Linked DNA regions of Homo sapiens: region 1 is linked to region 2. Evidence: fine-mapped expression QTL. A gene starts in region 2. The other region holds a variant in brackets. All regions are shown on one strand. Distances are from middle to middle.

Evidence for each region.
Region 1: its variant is fine-mapped to the expression of CCSAP in whole blood (TOPMed, PIP 0.96). The same link has a PIP of 0.9 or more in monocytes.

Annotation. Positions count from the first base shown.
Region 1 is chr1:229,411,986-229,420,666 of GRCh38, forward strand. It overlaps LOC124904541 (a long non-coding RNA gene), which reads left to right. Exons shown (of 2, transcript XR_007066925.1): 2 at 1-57. Among named protein-coding and RNA genes, the nearest start is that of ACTA1, 18 kb to the right of the region's middle. RefSeq lists enhancers at 2,723-3,223, 4,486-4,987, 5,619-6,374, 6,375-7,128. The variant G/A (reference allele first, on the strand shown) is at 3,614.
Region 2 is chr1:229,338,198-229,346,878 of GRCh38, forward strand. It overlaps CCSAP (centriole, cilia and spindle associated protein), which reads right to left and starts at 4,850. Exons shown (of 4, transcript NM_145257.5): 1 at 4,715-4,850; 2 at 3,902-4,316. The coding sequence starts at 4,268. RefSeq lists silencers at 3,899-4,098, 4,299-5,158, 6,005-6,299.

The sequences.
Region 1 (8,681 bases), 74 kb after region 2:
TTAAAACAGTTCAATGGATTTCCATTGCTCTTAAAATAAAAATTATATATACATTCAGCAGTGGAGGGTCTGCACAGGCTAGATTGGCCAACTGTGCCTCCTTGACAACCCCACGCCACCCCTACCCTCTCTCCCAGCTACACTGACCTCCCTTCAGGACTTAAAGGATCCCAGGACCTTGCTAGAGGTGTTCAACCTGCCTTTCAGAGCTGCACTTGCTCTGGAAGCCCTTCCTGACCGAGGATTGGTCAATGCTGTCCCATGCCACACCCCTCCTTTGTAGCATGTGTGAAATGTGCAGAGGCACATTGGTTCAAGTTGCTATTTGGTTGTTTGCTTGAGATGGAATCTTACTCTATTGCCCACGCTGGAGGGCAATGGCACAATCGCGGCTGGCTGCAACCTCTGCCTCCCGGGTTTGAGGGATTCTCCTGTCAGGCCTCTGAGCCCAAGCTAAGCCATCGCAGCCCCGGTGACTTGCACATATATGCCCAGATGGCCTGAAGTAACTGAAGAATCACAAAAGAAGTGAAAATGGCCGGTCCTTGCCTTAAGTGATGACATTACCTTGTAAAAGTCCTTTTCCTGGCTCATCCTGGCTCAAAAAGCTCCCCTACTGAGCACCTTATGACCCCCACTCCTGCCAGCCAGAGAACAACCCCCCTTTTGACTGTAATTTTCCTTTACCTGCCCAAATCCTATAAAACTGCCCCACCCTTAACTCCCTTCGCTTTCTTTTCGGACTCAGCCCACCTGCACTCAGGTGAAATAAACAGCTTTATTGCTCACACAAAACCTGTTTGGTGGTCTCTTCACATGGACGCGCATGAAATATGTTGCTGTGACTGGGATCAGGGGACCTCCCTTGGGAGATCAATCCCCTGTCCTCCTGTTCTTTGCTCCGTGAAAAAGATCCACCTACGACCTCAGGTCCTCAGACCCACCAGCCCAAGGAACATCTCACCAATTTTAAATCAGGTAAGTGACCTCTTCTTACTCTCTTCTCCAACCTTTCTCATTGTCCCTCAACCACTTTCTCCTTTCCACTCTTCAATCTCTCCCTTTTCTTAATTTCAATTCCTTTCATTTTCTGGTAGAGACAAAGGAGACACGTTTTATCTGTGGACCCAAAACTCTGGCGCCGGTCATGGACTGGCAAGGCAGCCTTCCCTTGGTGTCTAATCATTGCAGGGACACCTCTCTGATTATTAACCCAGGTTTCAGAGGTGTCAGACCATGCAGGGACGCCTGACTTGGTCCTTCACCCTTAGCAGCAAATCCCGCTTTTCTGGGGGAGGGGCAAGTACCCCAACCCCTTCTCATGTCTCTACCCCTTCTCTGCCTTTCTGGGGGGCAAGAAACCCCCAACCCCTTCTGCTTCACTCTTAGCGGCAAGTCCTGCTTTTCTGGGGAAGGGGCAAGTACCCCAACCCCTTATCTCTGTGTCTCTACCCCTTCTCTGCTTTTCTGGGGGAGGGGCAAGTACCCTTCAACCCCTTCTCCTTCACCCTTAGTGGCAAGTCTCACTTTTCTAGGGGGCAAGAACCCCCAATCCCTTATTTCCATGCCCCAACCCCTTTCCCACTTTTCTGGAGGGTAAGAACCCCCAAACCCCTTCCCTCCGTGTCTCTATGCTCTCTTTTCTCTGGGCTTGCCTCCTTCACTATGGGCAACCTTCCACCCTCCATTCCTCCTCCTTCTCCCTTAGTCTGTGTTCTCAAGAACTTAAAAACCTCTTCAACTCACACCTGACCTCAAACCTAAATGCCTTATTTTCTTCTGCAATGCCGCTTGACCCCAATACAAACTTGACAGTGGTTCCAAATAGCCAGAAAACAGCACTTTGAATTTTTCCATCCTGCAAGATCTACATAATTCTTGTCGTAAAATAGGCAAACGGTCTGAGGTGCCTGATGTCCAGGCATTCTTTTACACATCAGTCCCTTCCTAGTCTCTGTGCCCAATGCAACTTGTCCCAAATCTTCCTTCTTTCCCTCCTGCCTGTCCCCTCAGTCCCAACCCCAAGGGTCGCTGAGTCTTTCTAATCTTCCTTTTCTACAGACCCATCTGACCTCTCCCCTCCTCACCAGGCTGAGCTAGGTCCCAATTCTTCCTCAGCCTCCGCTCCTCCACCCTATAATCTTTTTATCGCCTCCCCTCCTCACACCTGGTCCGGCTTACAGTTTCGTTCCGTGACTAGCCCTCCCCCACCTGCCCAGCAATTTCCTCTTAAAAAGGTGGCTGGAGCTAAAGGCATAGTCAAGGTTAATGCTCCTTTTTCTTTATCCCAAATCTGATAGCGTTTAGGCTCTTTTTCATCAAATATAAAAATCCAGCCCAGTTCATGGCTCGTTTGGCAGCAACCCTGAGACGCTTTACAGCCCTGGACCCTAAAAGGTCAAAAGGCCGTCTTATTCTCAATATGCATTTTATTACCCAATCTGCTCCTGACATTAAATAAAACTCCAAAACTTAAATTCCAGCCCTCAAACCCCACAACAGGATTTAATTAACCTTGCCTTCAAGGTGTACAATAATAGAAAAAAGTTGCAATTCCTTGCCTCCACTGTGAGACAAACCCCAGCCACATCTCCAGCACACAAGAACTTCCAAACGCCTGAACCGCAGCTGCCAGGCGTTCCTCCAGAACCTCCTCCCACAGGAGCTTGCTACATGTGCCGGAAATCTGGCCACCGGGCCAAGGAATGCCCACAGCCCGGGATTCCTCCTAAGCCATGTCCCATCTGTGTGGGACCCCACTGAAAATCAGACTGTTCAACTAACCTGGCAGCCAGTTCCAGAGCCCCTGGAACTCTGGCCCAAGGCTCTCTGACTGACTCCTTCCCAGATCTTCTCGGCTTAGCAGCTGAAGACTGACACTGCCCGATCGCCTCGGAAGCCTACAGGACCGTCACAGATGCTCTAGGTAACTCTCGCAGTAGAGGATAAGTCCATCCCCTTCTTAATACGGAGGCCACCCACTCCACATTACCTTCTTTTCAAGGGCCTGTTTCCCTTGCCTCCATAACTATTGTGGGTATTGACGGCCAGGCTTCTAAACCTCTTAAAACTCCTCAACTCTAGTGCCAACTTAGACAACATTCTTTTATGCACTCTCTTTTAGTTATCCCCACCTGCCCAGCTCCCTTATTAGGCCAAGACATTTTAACTAAATTATCTGCTTCCCTATTCCTGGACTACAGCCGCATCTCATTGCCAGCCTTCTCCCAAACCCAAAGCCTCCTTTGCATCTTCCTCTTGTATCCCCCCACCTTAACCACAAGTATGGGACATCTCTACTCCTTCCCTGGCAACCGATCACATGCCCATTACCATCCCATTAAAACCTAATCACCCTTACCCCGCTCAACGCCAATATCCCATCCCACAGCACACTTTAAAAGGATTAAAGCCTGTTATCACTCGCCTGCTACAGCATAGGCTTCTAAAACCTATGAACTCCCCTTACAATTTCCCCATTTCACCTGTCCTAAAACTAGACAAGGCTTACAGGCTGATTCAAGATCTGCGACTTATCAACCAAATTATTTTGCCTATCCACCCCATGGTGCCGAACCCATATACTCTCCTATCCTCAGTACCTCCCTCCACA[G/A]CCCATTATTCTGTTCTAGATCTCAAACATGCTTTCTTTACTATTCCTTTGCACCCTTCATCCCAGCCTCTCTTCACTTTCACTTGGACTAATCCTGACACCCATCAGGCTCAGCAAATTACCTGGGCTGTACTGCTGCAAGGCTTCACAGACATCCCCCATTACTTCAGTCAAGCCCAAATTTCAACCTCATCTGTTACCTATCTCGGCATAATTCTCATAAAAACACTCGTGCTCTCCCTGCTGATCGTGTCCGGCTAATCTCCCAAACCCCAATCCTTTCTACAAAACAACAACTCCTTTCCTTCCTAGGCATGGTTAGTGCGGTCAGAATTCTTACACAAGAGCCAGGACCGCACCCTGTAGGCTTTCTGTCGAAACAACTTGACCTTACTGTTTTAGCCTCGCCCTCATGTCTGCTTGCAGTGGCTGCCACTGCTTTAATACTTTTAGAGGCCCTCAAAATCACAAACTATGCTCAACTCACTCTCTACAGTTCTCATAACTTCCAAAATCTATTTTCTTCCTCACACCTGATGCATACACTTTCTGCTCCTCAGCTCCTTCAGCTGTACTCACTCTTTGTTAAGTCCCACAATTACCATTGTTCCTGGCCCAGACTTCAATCCGGCCTCCCACATTATTCCAGATACCACACCTGACCCTCATGACTGCATCTCTCTGATCCACCTGACGTTCACCCCATATCCCCACGTTTCCTTCTTTCCTGTTTCTCACCCTGATCACATTTGGTTTATTGATGGCAGTTCCACCAGGCCTAATCGCCACTCACCAGCAAAGGCAGGCTACGCTATAGTATCTTCCACATTTATCATTGAGGCTACTGCTCTGCCCCCCTCCACTATCTCTCAGAAAGCCGAACTAGTTGCCTTAACTCAAGCCCTCACTCTTGCAAAAAGACTATGCGTCAATATCTATACTGATTCTAAATATGCCTTTCATATTCTGCACCACCATGTGGTCACATGGGCTGAAAGAGGTTTCCTCACTACGCAAGGGTCCTCCATCATTAATGCCTCTAATAAAAACTCTGCTCAAGGCCGCTTCACTTCCAAAGGAAGCTGGAGTCATTCACTGCAAAGGCCATCAAAAGGCATCAGATCCCATTGCTCTAGGCAACGCTTATGCTGATAAGGTGGCTAGACAAGCAGCTAGCTCTCCACCTTCTGTCCCTTACAGCCAGTTTTTCTCCTTCACATCAGTCATTCCCACCTACTCCCCTGCTGAAACTTCCACCTATCAATCTCTTCCCACACAAGGCAAATGGTTCTTAGACCAAGGAAAATATCTCCTTGCAGCCTCACAGTCCCATTCTATTCTGTTGTCATTTCATAACCTCTTCCATGTAGGTTACAAGCCGCTAGCCCGTCTCTTAGAACCTCTCATTTCCTTTCCATCCTGGAAATCTATCCTCAAGGAAATCACTTCTCAGTGTTCCATCTGCTATTCTACTGCCCCTCAGGGATTGTTCAGGCCTCCTCCCTTCCCTACACATCAAGCTCGGGGATTTGCCCCTGCCCAGGACTGGCAAATTGACTTTACTCACATGCCCCGAGTCAGGAAACTAAAATATCTCCTAGTCTAGGTAGACACTTTCACTGGATAGGTAGAGGCCTTTCCTACAGGGTCTGAGAAGTCCACCGCGGTCATTTCTTCCCTTCTGTCAGACATAATTCCTCGGTTTGGCCTTCCCACCTCTATACAGTCAGATAGCAGACCGGCCTTTATTAGTCAAATCAGCCAAGCATTTTTTTCAGGCTCTTAGTATTCAGTGAAACCTTTATATCCCTTACGGTCCTCAGTCTTCAGGAAAGGTAGAACAGACTAATAGTCTTTTAAAAACACACCTCACCAAGCTCAGCCACCAACTTAAAAAGGACTGGACAATACTTTTACCACTTTCCCTTCTCAGAATTCAAGCCTGTCCTCAGAATGCTACAAGGTACAGCCCATTTGAGCTCCTGTATAGATGCTCCTTTTTATTAGGCCCCAGTCTCATTCCAGACACCAGACCAACTTGGACGGTGCTCCAAAAAAATTGTCATCCCTACTATCTTCTGTCTAGTCATAATCCTATTCACCGTTCTCAGCTACTCACACATGCCCTGCTTTTGTTTACACTGCCGGTTTATACTGTTTCTCCAAGCCATCACAGCTGATATGGATGCTATCCCCAAACTGCCACTCTTAAGTCTTAAAGTAAATAATCTTTGCTGGCAGGACTATGCTGAACCTCCTTAGGCACTCTCTAATTAGATGTCCTGGGTCCTCCCAATTCTTAGACCTTTAATACCTGTTTTTCTCCTTCTCTTATTCTGTTTAGTTTTTCAATTCATACAAAACTGTATCCAGGCCATCACCAATAATTCTAAATGACAAATGTTTCTTCTAACAACCCCACAATGTCACCCCTTACCACAAAATCTTCCTTCAGCTTAATCTCTCCCACTCTAGGTTCCCACGCCGCCCCTAATCCCACTTGAAGCAGCCCTGAGAAACATCGCCCATTCTCTCTCCATACCACCCCCCAAAAATTTTCGCCGCCCTAACACTTCAACACTATTTTGCTTTATTTTTCTTATTAATATAAGAAGGCAGGAATGTCAGGCCTCTGAGCCCAAGCCAAGCCATCACACCCCCGGTGACTTGCACATATACACCCAGATGGCCTGAAGTAACTGAAGAATCACAAAAGAAGTCAAAATGCCCTGCCCTACCTTAACTGATGACATTCCACCACAAAAGAAGTGAAAATGGCCGGTCCTTGCCTTAAGTGATGACATTACCTTGTAAAAGTCCTTTTCCTGGCTCATTCTGGCTCAAAAAGCTCCCCTACTGAGCACCTTATGACCCCCACTCCTGCCCGCCAGAGAACAACCCCCCTTTTGACTGTAATTTTCCTTTACCTGCCCAAATCCTATAAAACGGCCCCACCCTTAATTCCCTTTGTTTTCTTTTCGGACTCAGCCCACCTGCACCCAGGTGAAATAAACAGCTTTGTTGCTCACACAAAGCCTGTTTGGTGGTCTCTTCACAAGGCGCATGAAACTCCCACCTCAGCCTCCTGAGTAGCTGGGATTACAGGCACCCACCACCACACCTGGCTAATTTTTGTATCTTTAAGAGAGATGGGCAGGGCGCAGTGGCTTACGTCTGTAATCCCTTCACTTTGGGAGGTCAAGGAGGGCGGATCACAAGGTCAGGTGGCCGGAAGCAACTGAAGATCCACAAAAGAAGTGAAAATAGCCTTAACTGATGACATTCCACCATTGTGATTTGTTTCTGCCCCACCCTAACTGATCAATGTACTTTGTAATCTCCCCCACCCGTAAGAAAGTTCTTTGTAATTCTCCTCACCCTTGAGAATGTACTTAGTGAGATCCACCCCCTGCCCACAAAACATTGCTCCTAACTCCACCGCCTATCCCCAAACCTATAAGAACTAATGATAATCCACCACCCTTTGCTGACTCTCTTTTTGGACTCAGTCCCCCTGCACCTAAGTGAAATAAACAGCTTTGTTGCCCACACAAAGCCTGTTTGGTGATCTCTTCACACGGACACGTGAGACAGAGACCAGCCTGGCCAACATGGTGAAACTCCATCTCTACTAAAAATACAAAAATTGGCGGGGTGTGGTAGTGCATGCCTGTAATCCCAGCTACTCAGGAGGCTGAGGCAGGAGAATTACTTGAACCCGGGAGGTGGAGGTTGCAGTGAGCCGAGATGGTGCCACTGCACTCCAGCCTGGGTGACAGAGCGAGATTCTGTCTCAAAAAAAAAAAAAAGAGAGAGAGAGAGAGAGAGAGAGAGATGGGGTTTTACCATGTTGGCCAGGCTGGTCTCAAACTTCTGACCTCAGGTGATGCACCCACCTTGGCCTCCCAAAGTGCTGGGATTACAGGCCTGAGCCACTGCACCCAGCCCATGTTGCTGTTTGATCAATATCTGCCTCTCAGCTAGACTGCCAGCTCCCTGAGGGCCGAGACACTGATTTGTAGGTGCTCAGCAAGTGTCGGTTGAATAAATTAGTGAATTAATTGAGGATTGGAGGGGGTGCCAATAAGCAGGGCAATAGCAGGGGAGGGGGTTCTGGATCCGTTTGGAAAATAAGCTGAAGAATAATGTCAACTTGATTTTAGATGTCTTAATTTCTCAGACTGAGGAGCAGCACAGCTCCCTCCCATGTAGTCCCATAACCAGGAAAGTGCATGGAGGAAAAAGGACACAGACACTTCCCTGGCTGGGGGGCCACAGTGCCTGTGCTCTCCTGTAGCCTGGAACAATTCGCTTTGCCTCATGGTGCCCGGGGCTGCCCCTTGGAAAAAATACAGCCACCCAGTGCAGGGCTGGGACTGGGTGTGGGAAGTGAGGCACATCCTCTGTGCTGGTGGTACAAGTGCAAGTGCAGATTCTGGGGCCTCTCACCTCATCCTCATCCCAGCCTGAACCAGTGTTTGCCTTGCCCATGTCGGGAAGAGATCCCATGATAATTTCAGAGATGCTGAGTTTCCTGGCTTAAAAATTCCTGGTCTCCAGTGCCAGCGTGGTGTGGGAAAACACATGCAGCTCCCCCATCCCCCAAACCTGGGAGAATGACCCTGGTAGGTTCCGCCCCAGGGCACCTGGAGATCTGAGCATGGAGGTCTTCCGGGAGCCTCACTGTACCTGCATGGTCCTGCTTCCACCTGCCTGCCTTGCACTGAGCACTAGAGGCTGAAACAAACATTAGCAGAAAATCCAGATTCTAGAAACAGATGACATGCGCCCTGAGATGACGCCCTAACATGCGCCCTGACACGCGCCCAGGGATGACAGGCATCCTTTTGAAGCATTTACTTGAGAAGAAGTTCAAGTAGGGTTAAGTTATTCCATATAACTATATTCCATATCGCACGTCTCCGTTCCTGCAATGGTAGCGATACTCCATAAATATGTGTTGATGAATGGACAAAACTAAAGGGAGGGAAGAAAGTGGGGGAGAATCTTGAGCTCTGTAGCTTTGGAAGGAGAAAGAATACAGTGGAACCTTTTCTGAAGCTCTCAA
Region 2 (8,681 bases):
TCTCCCATAATGGGAAGTCAGTAGATAATGTTCACAATCAAAAAGCCAACAGATAAGATTAAATAAAAAGAGGGTGGCCAATGCTGAAAGGAAAGCGAAACTGAGTGAAAGGAGCAAGGGGCATGGGTGGGAAATGGGGCAGGATCATGTTTTTTTCATTTTAAGCAAAATGTTTTAAATTACTGCACATGTAAACTTTGCTAAAAATAAAATCTAACCTAAAAAGAAAACGTGACTATGAAGTAAGGAATCGGAGACAGTCTAGACCACTCTTCATAGCATATTGGCTATGGGAGGAAAAGAATCTCACGGTTCACAAGCACTTCCACCCCCAAACCCCAACACACACACACACACACACACACACACACACACACAGAATTTCCTAACAGCTTTTTAGTATCCATCCCTTAAATAAGAATGAGAAACGAAGGATCATTAGACATTTGAGAAAAGTGCCTAACATGAAAATAGAGAATTACCAGCAAAAAGAAACAAAGAGGCAGAAGTGAAAGATTGTGCTGAAGAAACACAGAAAGAGAAGAAAACAAACGAAAAATTCTAATATATATCCTCAGTAAGATAAAACCCTACATGCATCAATCAGGAACCAGATACTGTGTTGTAAAAAGAAATAAAAAGGGACGGAAAGGAGGGAGGTAAGGGAGGGAATAAATGGCAGCCCAGAAAACAATTCAAGAGCTCTTACATTTAAAAGAAAAATAGGATCCCTCAAATGGAAAATGTAATAAGAGATTTAGAAGATACAGCTGAGAGTATCACCCAGAAAACAAAACAATAAAAGATGAAAATCTGTCAAGAAAAAACTTAGAAAATTAGAGGATAAAATGATAAAGTCTAATATCCAACTAAGGACTTCAGAAAAAAAAGAAATGGGAAAAAAAAAAAAAACAGAAATAAGAAAATAATTCCAGAAAACTTCCGGGAATTAAAAACATGAGTTTGTCTATAAAGACCTGCCAAGTGCCCAGCAAAGCAAAGGAAAACAGATCTAGATCAAGGAAAAATGTCAGAACATAAAGGCCAAAGAGAAGACCGTGAAAGCTTCCTGAGGGCAACACATTACCTACAAAAGATCAAGATCAAGAATCATAACGAGGCAGGCTGTAACATCAGCAGTCATAACACATAAGGAGGAATGCCCCCAGAGTTTCTACGGACAACTGTTCCAACCTAGAATTCCATGCCCAGCCACACTCACCAAATTGTAAGGGTAGAATAAAGCTATCTCTTGGCATTCAAAGAAAGCTAACCTCTGAACCATCCTTTCTTGGGAATCTACTAGAAGATGTGCTCCACCAAGAAGGGGTAAACCAAGAAAGAAAATGACATGAAAGGCACACGACAGAGACTCAAACCCAAGAGAGAAGCCAAGAAAGGTCCTAGGAGGATGGCCAAGGGCCCTCCCAAGATGCCAGCCAGGCAGCAGCCCACAGGAGCAGCAGCCAGCCCAGACAGAAGTAGGTCAGGGGCCCTGGGAGAGGCATCTTAAGATGACAAGAGTGATAGTGAACCTGATGTGTTGGTTGTATTGTGAAAGAAAAAAGGGAATCATGGGAAATAGTATGGGTCAGCTTTGAGTAACTTTTTCCATGGGCACAATACGGTACATACTAATTATGAATCCAACAAACTCTATGAGGACTGTATTGTGCAGGTGTGGAGATGGGCCGTGTGTGTGTGGGTGAGGAGAGCAGTAAAAAAGAATTAAAGTCAATAGATAATGTTAAAAACTGAAAAAAAACAATCACATGTCAATAAAAGCCATGTTACTTGGAGATACAGAAATAAATACCAAAGGAAAAACCAGGGTGTTATGTATGGCATAGGGCTGATGTGCTTTTGTAATAAGTCAGACAGAACTACGTGATTCTATGTGCATCTATGGCTTCAGGGAAAGTAAAAAATTTTATATTTTATAGAAACTCAAAAGAGTGCTCATTGCACTAGTATTTAAAACCATCCACTTAAAAACCAGGATATTTAATCTTGTGCAAGCAACACAGGAGTCAAGAGGGCCTTACGGGTAGGAGCAAAACAAAAGATGCTGCGATTGAGTCCTGAAAGCAGAAAACATCCTTTCTTCTTCCTGATGCCTAAACCAGAAACGTTAGCAGGGAAGAAATAACTGAGAGGACGCTATATTTAAGGAAACCAAAATAATCATGAACTCAGAGCTTACCTGAGCTGGTAAATACAGGCACCATCCATATCACAACGCTGCCTAAAAATTGTATTTATATTGCATGCAAATATTTGACAACTCCATCACAAACAATAAAAGATCGGGGAGAGAAAAGCCATTTAGCCTGATAAAGTACATCTCAATTTAGCTAGCAGATCAGTACCCACAGGAATAATCTGGAAGGCATGTTCCCTACCCCCTCCACCTTCTGTTATTTGCATTTCTAGCAGTGATCACTGAAGCATCAGGATTTGTGGGGATTCACAAGTAACATCATGATGGGAGGAGGCAGCCCTGCCTCCGATGATGAGCTGAAAATAGCTGAAGATGGTAAAACCAAGAGCAAAGCAACCCGGCTCATAGCCGAAATTTCATCTCCTCCTCAGCCTCTCACAGAGAAGCCAGGAAGAGTCTGATTGGCTTGCAATCGGGTAAACAAAAATAAACACATAAATGAATAAAGTCACTGATCCTGAGCTTCCGTTTTTTCATCTATAAAACTGAGATTAGGGCCGGGCATGGTGGCTCACTCCTGTAATCCCAACACTTTGGGAGGCCGAGGCGGGCGGATCACGAGGTGAGGAGTTTGAGACCAGCCTGACCAACATGGTGAAACCCCGTCTCCACTAAAAATACAAAAATTAGCCGGGCGTGGTGGCGCGTGCCTGTAATCCCAGCTACTCGGGAGGCTGAGGCAGGAGAATGACGTGAATCCGGGAGGCAGAGGTTGCAGTGAGCCGAGATCGCGCCACTGCGCTCCAGCCTGGGCCACAGAGCGAGACTCCGTCTCAAAAAAAAAAAAAAAAAAAGATTACAACATGGTCTCTTTTGGGATTGTTTTGAATATTAAATGACAACATACATATTCCCAGATCAGTGACTGAATGTCTAACAGGCTCCCAATACATTTTCCATGTTTTCCTCACTCGAGCCTTTTTAAAATCCAGTGATCTGGAAGGAACCATTGGTTACTCCAGGCTGTACTGAGGCGTTCAACTGGGTCCCCAGCCCTGCAAGCCTCTGGGCAGGAAAGAAGGTGAAGGGGCCATGCCTTGAAAACACGCGCAGCGCCACCGGCGCTTTCGGATCTGGACAGGCGAGGGAGGATGGGGAGGGACGGAAGGGGAGAGGCCCTAGCACTTATAAAGATGCTCTCACAGCCAAGTTATTCAACACTCCACGTAAACAAATGCAAAATATTCTTTAGGGACAGCGTAGCGAGGTCGGGGAGTTAATACGGAAAACAATGGCCCCATTCATCAGACAAAGCTTAGCTCTGTGGTTCTTAACCTTTTGGGTTACCTTTGAGAATCTGATTAAAGCTGGGGCTCCTCTGATCAAAAATGGGCGCCTAGAAATAAGCAGATGGGACTCAGTGGTTCGCCAAGAAATAAGATGGGATTCAGAGGTTTGCCAAGCCGCAGAGGCCCGCGAGGAAAGACCCCAGACTCAGCCAGCGGCGCTTCAATTGAGTTCACCGCTGGCTCGACCGAAAGCCACCTAATTAAGGAAATAAAGGGTGGCAAAGGCTGCCACCTTCCCTATTTTGTCAAGAGAGACGGATTCTGTCAACCGAAAAAAAAAAAAGGAAGAGCCAGCCCCGAGTGGCGCAAGAAATAAGAGATCAGCTGCTCAGAGCTTAGAGCAAACCGTCCCTGCGTGCAGGCCCCTCGCGCTCCCCTCCGGGCCGGGTACCTGGCAGAGCCGCGTCCTCCGCGTCCTCGGCCTCCGCGTCCCCGGCCTCCGCGTCCTGCTCCTCCGGGGCCCCGCGCGCCCGCCGTTCCGCCTCCTCCTGGGTCGCCGGCTCTACGGGCGGCGGGGGCGAGGGCGGGGCGCACCGGGGTGCGGGGCCCCCGGCGCCCGACGACTCTGACGACGCCGAGTCCTCCGAGGAGCCGGCCGGGCCCCAGTCGTCCCAGAGCCAGGGCGCGTGCGCCTGCTCCAGCAGCCGGCGGCCTAGGCGGTAGTGCAGCAGCTCGCGGTAGCACGGCCCGTACTCCTCCCAGCGCGGCTCCTGGTAGCGCTTCATGTACTCGCTCTTCACCCCGCTCCCCGGGGACATGGTGCCGTCCGCCGCCTCGAGCGCCAGCCGCTCCTCGCTGCCCGCAGCCTACGGGACCCGGTACACGACACAGAGGCCGCCCCGCCCCTCCGCCGGCCCTGCCCGCCGCGACGTTTAAACCCGGAGCCCCGCCCGGACGGGAGCAGGGGGCGGGTCCCGGCGAGGGCGGGGAGGGGGCGGGGCGGGGGCGGCCTCACCCGGCGGCCGGGACCAAGAGCAGAGGCGGGGACCGGGGCTGCTGGGGTCGAGGGGCGCGCCGCCGAGGAGGGCTGCTCAGTGGGCGGAAGGCAGGGAGGCTGCGGGCTGGGGCGAGGGGACCGCAGGAGACTGGGGCTGAGCGGGAGGAGGAGCGAGGGAGGGGAGCGGCGGGGCCCGTGATCGGGTGGTCCTGGGGTCTCCGGAGGCGTCCCCTGAGCTAGGCGTGCGGTCCCGCGGGGCTGCCTTACCTCCTTCCCGCCGCGCCCGGCCGATCCTCTGCGCCCAGGCCCGAGGCGCGCGTGGCGCAGCAGCTAAAGCGCAGCTCGCTCTCCCGCGCGCTTTCCTCCTGAGCAAGATGTCGCCGCGGCGGCCCGCGCTCCAGCTGCAGGCGGGAGGCGGTGGCGCCGCCTCAGTCCCGGAGCCTCCACGCGCGCTCCCGGCCCCCGGGCCTCCGCCCGCTCCGTGGGGGCGGCTGCTTCCGTAGAGAGCGCGAGGCGCGGGGGTGCGGGCGTGCCTGCCAGTCCGAGGGGCCCAGGCCCAGGTCCCTGGCCCACTTATTTGAGGTGCCCGTCCACCCTGGTCCCAGCAGACGCTGTCCCAGGCACGCGTCACTCTGCAGGAGTCGTCAGTTAGGGGCAAGAGATGATCCCTCCAGATATGCAGCCCCCCCAGGCTGCGGCCGGGGGCGACACTCTCTGTCCTCACTCGAAACCTACCGGTTCTTCCTCTCTGTGTTCACAACACCTGTTACTCTGGCTTTAACTCCCTTTTATATCTACACTCCCCAAATTCTTTTAGATTTTGATCAAAACCATTTCACTCGCTCAGAGATTCGTTTGCACATAAAAGCTTGACAGATTAACTTACGTTGTGCAGAAGTATACAAAGTTGTCCCATTTGTTACAGTTTCAAAAGTGGCCCCACACTCTTTTCCCTTTTTACACATAAAACCTTCACAGATCCAGTTACTTTGTGCAGAAGTATACAACGTTGCCCCATTTGTTACAGTTTCAAAAGTGGCCCCGCACTGTTTTCCCTTTTTGCTCATAAAACCTCCACAGATCCGGCTGAGCGCTGTGGCTCACGCCTGTAATCCCAGCATTTTGGGAGGCCGAGGCGGGTGGCTCACGAGGTCAGGAGATCGAGACCATCCTGGCTAACACAGTGAAACCCCATCTCTACTAAAAAAATAAAAATAAAAAGAATTAGCCCGGCGTGGTGGTGAACGGCTGTAGTCCCAGCTACTCGGGAGCCTGAGGCAGGAGAATGGCGTGAACCCGGGAGGCGGAGCTTGCAGTGAGCCTAGATTGCGCCACTGCACTCCAGCCTGGGCGACAGAGCAAGACTCCGTCTCAAAAAAAATAAAAAATAAAAAATAAAAACCTTCACAGATCCAGTTACATTGTACAGAAGAATACAACGTTGCCCCATTTGTTACAGTTTCAGAAGTGGTCCTGCACTATTTTCCCTTTCTTAAAAAAAGAGCCTTGATACAGTAGCTGCAAAAAGATTTGAAAGGAAAAAACTTTTGGAAAATCTAAATATATATATAGCAGTTAAAAAGCAAGCCCAGGCCGTGAGTAGCGCTCACGGCTTCCACGTCAGGATTCCCACGAATTCACCTACTTTCTACGTGTCCGCATCCTGCCTCCCACCACCACCGCCCACCTCATCATAGCTAAATGATTCAGAGGCGGCTACTGGCCCAAATGGGGCGGGTCAGACCGTCTGCTCTGAAAACTTGAAGTTACTAGTCCAATCATTAGCACGGGATTGTGTTAATGGCAGTTTTCTGGACGGAAACTCCAGGATACCCTGCTGCTAATGAGTCCGCGGACGCCATGATTTCTCCCCTTCCCAACTTTATTTTCTGTTCCTTGACTTACATTAGGGACATTCTAATGCACTTTCCTTTTGTTTAAGCTGGCTGGGGTTGGTTTCTGATGTTTGCAACCAAAGTAGCCTTAATAAAGATTGAATAAGGTGGGGAAATGGTTATATGTAGTTCTATGGGACATGCAGGACACCATCGGTTTCAGCTTTTGCTGCATAATTCACTCCAAAACTCAGTGGTTTAAAACAGCTAAGATTTATTATTTCTTATGATTCTGAGGGTTAGCTGGGCAGTTCCTCCGCAGTTGGATTCTGATGGAGAGACAGCAGGGCTGGAAGTTTCAAGATGACCTCCTGATATAGTTGGGATAATTCCTCCAAATCTGAAGTTGAAATTGATCCCCAATGTTGGAGGTGGGGCCTAGTGGGAAGTGTGTGGGTCATGGGGGCAGATCCCTCATGCATGGCTTGGTGCCATTCTTCAGTAACGAGTGAGTTCTCACTCTTTTAGTTTGCATGAGAGCTTGTTGTTCAAAAAGAGCCTGGCATGTCCTCCTCTCTCTCTCTCACTCCCTTTCTCTCTCCATGTGACATGACAGCTCCCCTTCCCCTTCCACCATGATTGGAAGCTCCCTGAGGCCTCACCAGAAGCAGATGCTGACACTGTGCTTCCTGTATAGCCTGCAGAACCATGAGCCAAATAAACCTGTTTTATTTATAAATTACCCAGCCTCCGGTATTCCTTTATAACAGCACAAAACAAACTAGTACACCTCCCTTACATAACTGGCAGTGGGGTGGGCTGTGGGCTGGGCCGTCTTGGTCACATCCTCCAGAAGCCTGGACTGGCATCTCAAGGTCATATACATCTCCTGCTGCATTCTCACGTTCAAAGAAATCACAAGGCTAAGAGTCAAGGGAGAGAAATGAACTTCCCTTCTGCATAAGAGGAGCAGCAAATTCACATTCCAAAAGGGATTGCATACCGGGTGAAGGAATTTGCGGGCATATTTTACAATCTTCAACACAACACACACACACACACACACACACAAATATAAGGGCACTCTGGGAGGCCAAGGCAGGCGGATCACCTGAGGTCAGGAGTTCAAGACCAACCTGGCCAACATGGCGAAACCTCATTTTTACTAAAAATACAAAAATTAGCTGGACTTGGTGGTGCATGCTTGTAGTCCCAGCTACTCCGGAGGCTGACAGGAGAATTACTTGAACCTGAGAGGCAGAGGTAAGCTGAGATCATACCACTGCACTCTAACCTGAGCGACTGCACCCTATTTACAAGAGAGGCTTGCAAATATCTGGCTTTTCTAGGTTCTACACTGGCATGGGAATTCATAAAAAGTGTCAAGTAGATAGCGGATGTCTCCTGAGTATGTTTGTATTTGGAAGGGGCAGTCGGGGGCTGGGGACGGGGGGAGAGAGAGGGAGAGAGAACAGCACCATCCAGAGACAAATGGGAAGGAGAGGGCAGTGGATGGAAGGAGCACTGTGTGGGAGGAGTGGGTACAGAGCACGTGAATTGGGGAGGAGTCAGGAGGAGTGGGTACACAGCATGTGAGTTGGAAGATCAGCTTTTTCTCAGAAGCAAGGAAGAGGGAAGTTGAGGAAGCCCTCGGAGGATGGCCTCCCCTGGCTCAGAAGAAGAAAATTATTGAGATAGGATGGGCTGGCAAGCTGAGGGAGTGATAGTGCCAGAGGCTTAGGGTGGAAGGGCTCCAAGAGGTTCAGCCACACCCCCCGAGAGGTGGACAGCCTTCATGTCCCTGTGAGGCTGCCTGTTCTGCTCCTGGCCAGACTCGGTCGCCAGCAGATTTTCTCATGTGGAATCTGTATGCCTGTGTGGCAAATATCTATTGTTTATCTTTCAGGAGTGCAGCTCCAGGCCCTTTTTTTTTGGAGATGGAGTCTCACTCTGTCGCCCAGGCTGGAGTGCAGTGGCGCGATCTTGGCTCACTGCAACTCCCCTTCCTGAGTTCAAGCTATTCCCCTGCCTCAGCCTCCTGAGTAGCTGGGACTACAGGCACCTGCCACCATGCCCGGCTAGATTTTGTATTTTTAGTAGAGACAGAGTTTCACCATGTTGGCCACGCTGGTCTTGAACTCCTGACCTCAGGTGATCCATCTGCCTCGGCCTCTCAAAGTGCTGGGATTACAGCATGAGCCACTGTGCCTGGCCAGATCTTCCTTTCTATTGGCTCCCCAATCTCCATCAGAGGAAGATGCCCCTCCTCGCCCAGGGCTGCCTCCCATCCAGGGCTTCCTCTGCCAAAATTGAGGGCACAGATCCTCCCTCTCCTGCCTATGCCTGGATCTTGCAGCCTGGTTTCTGGAGTCCCCTTGGTTTCTCTTAAATTTCCACCC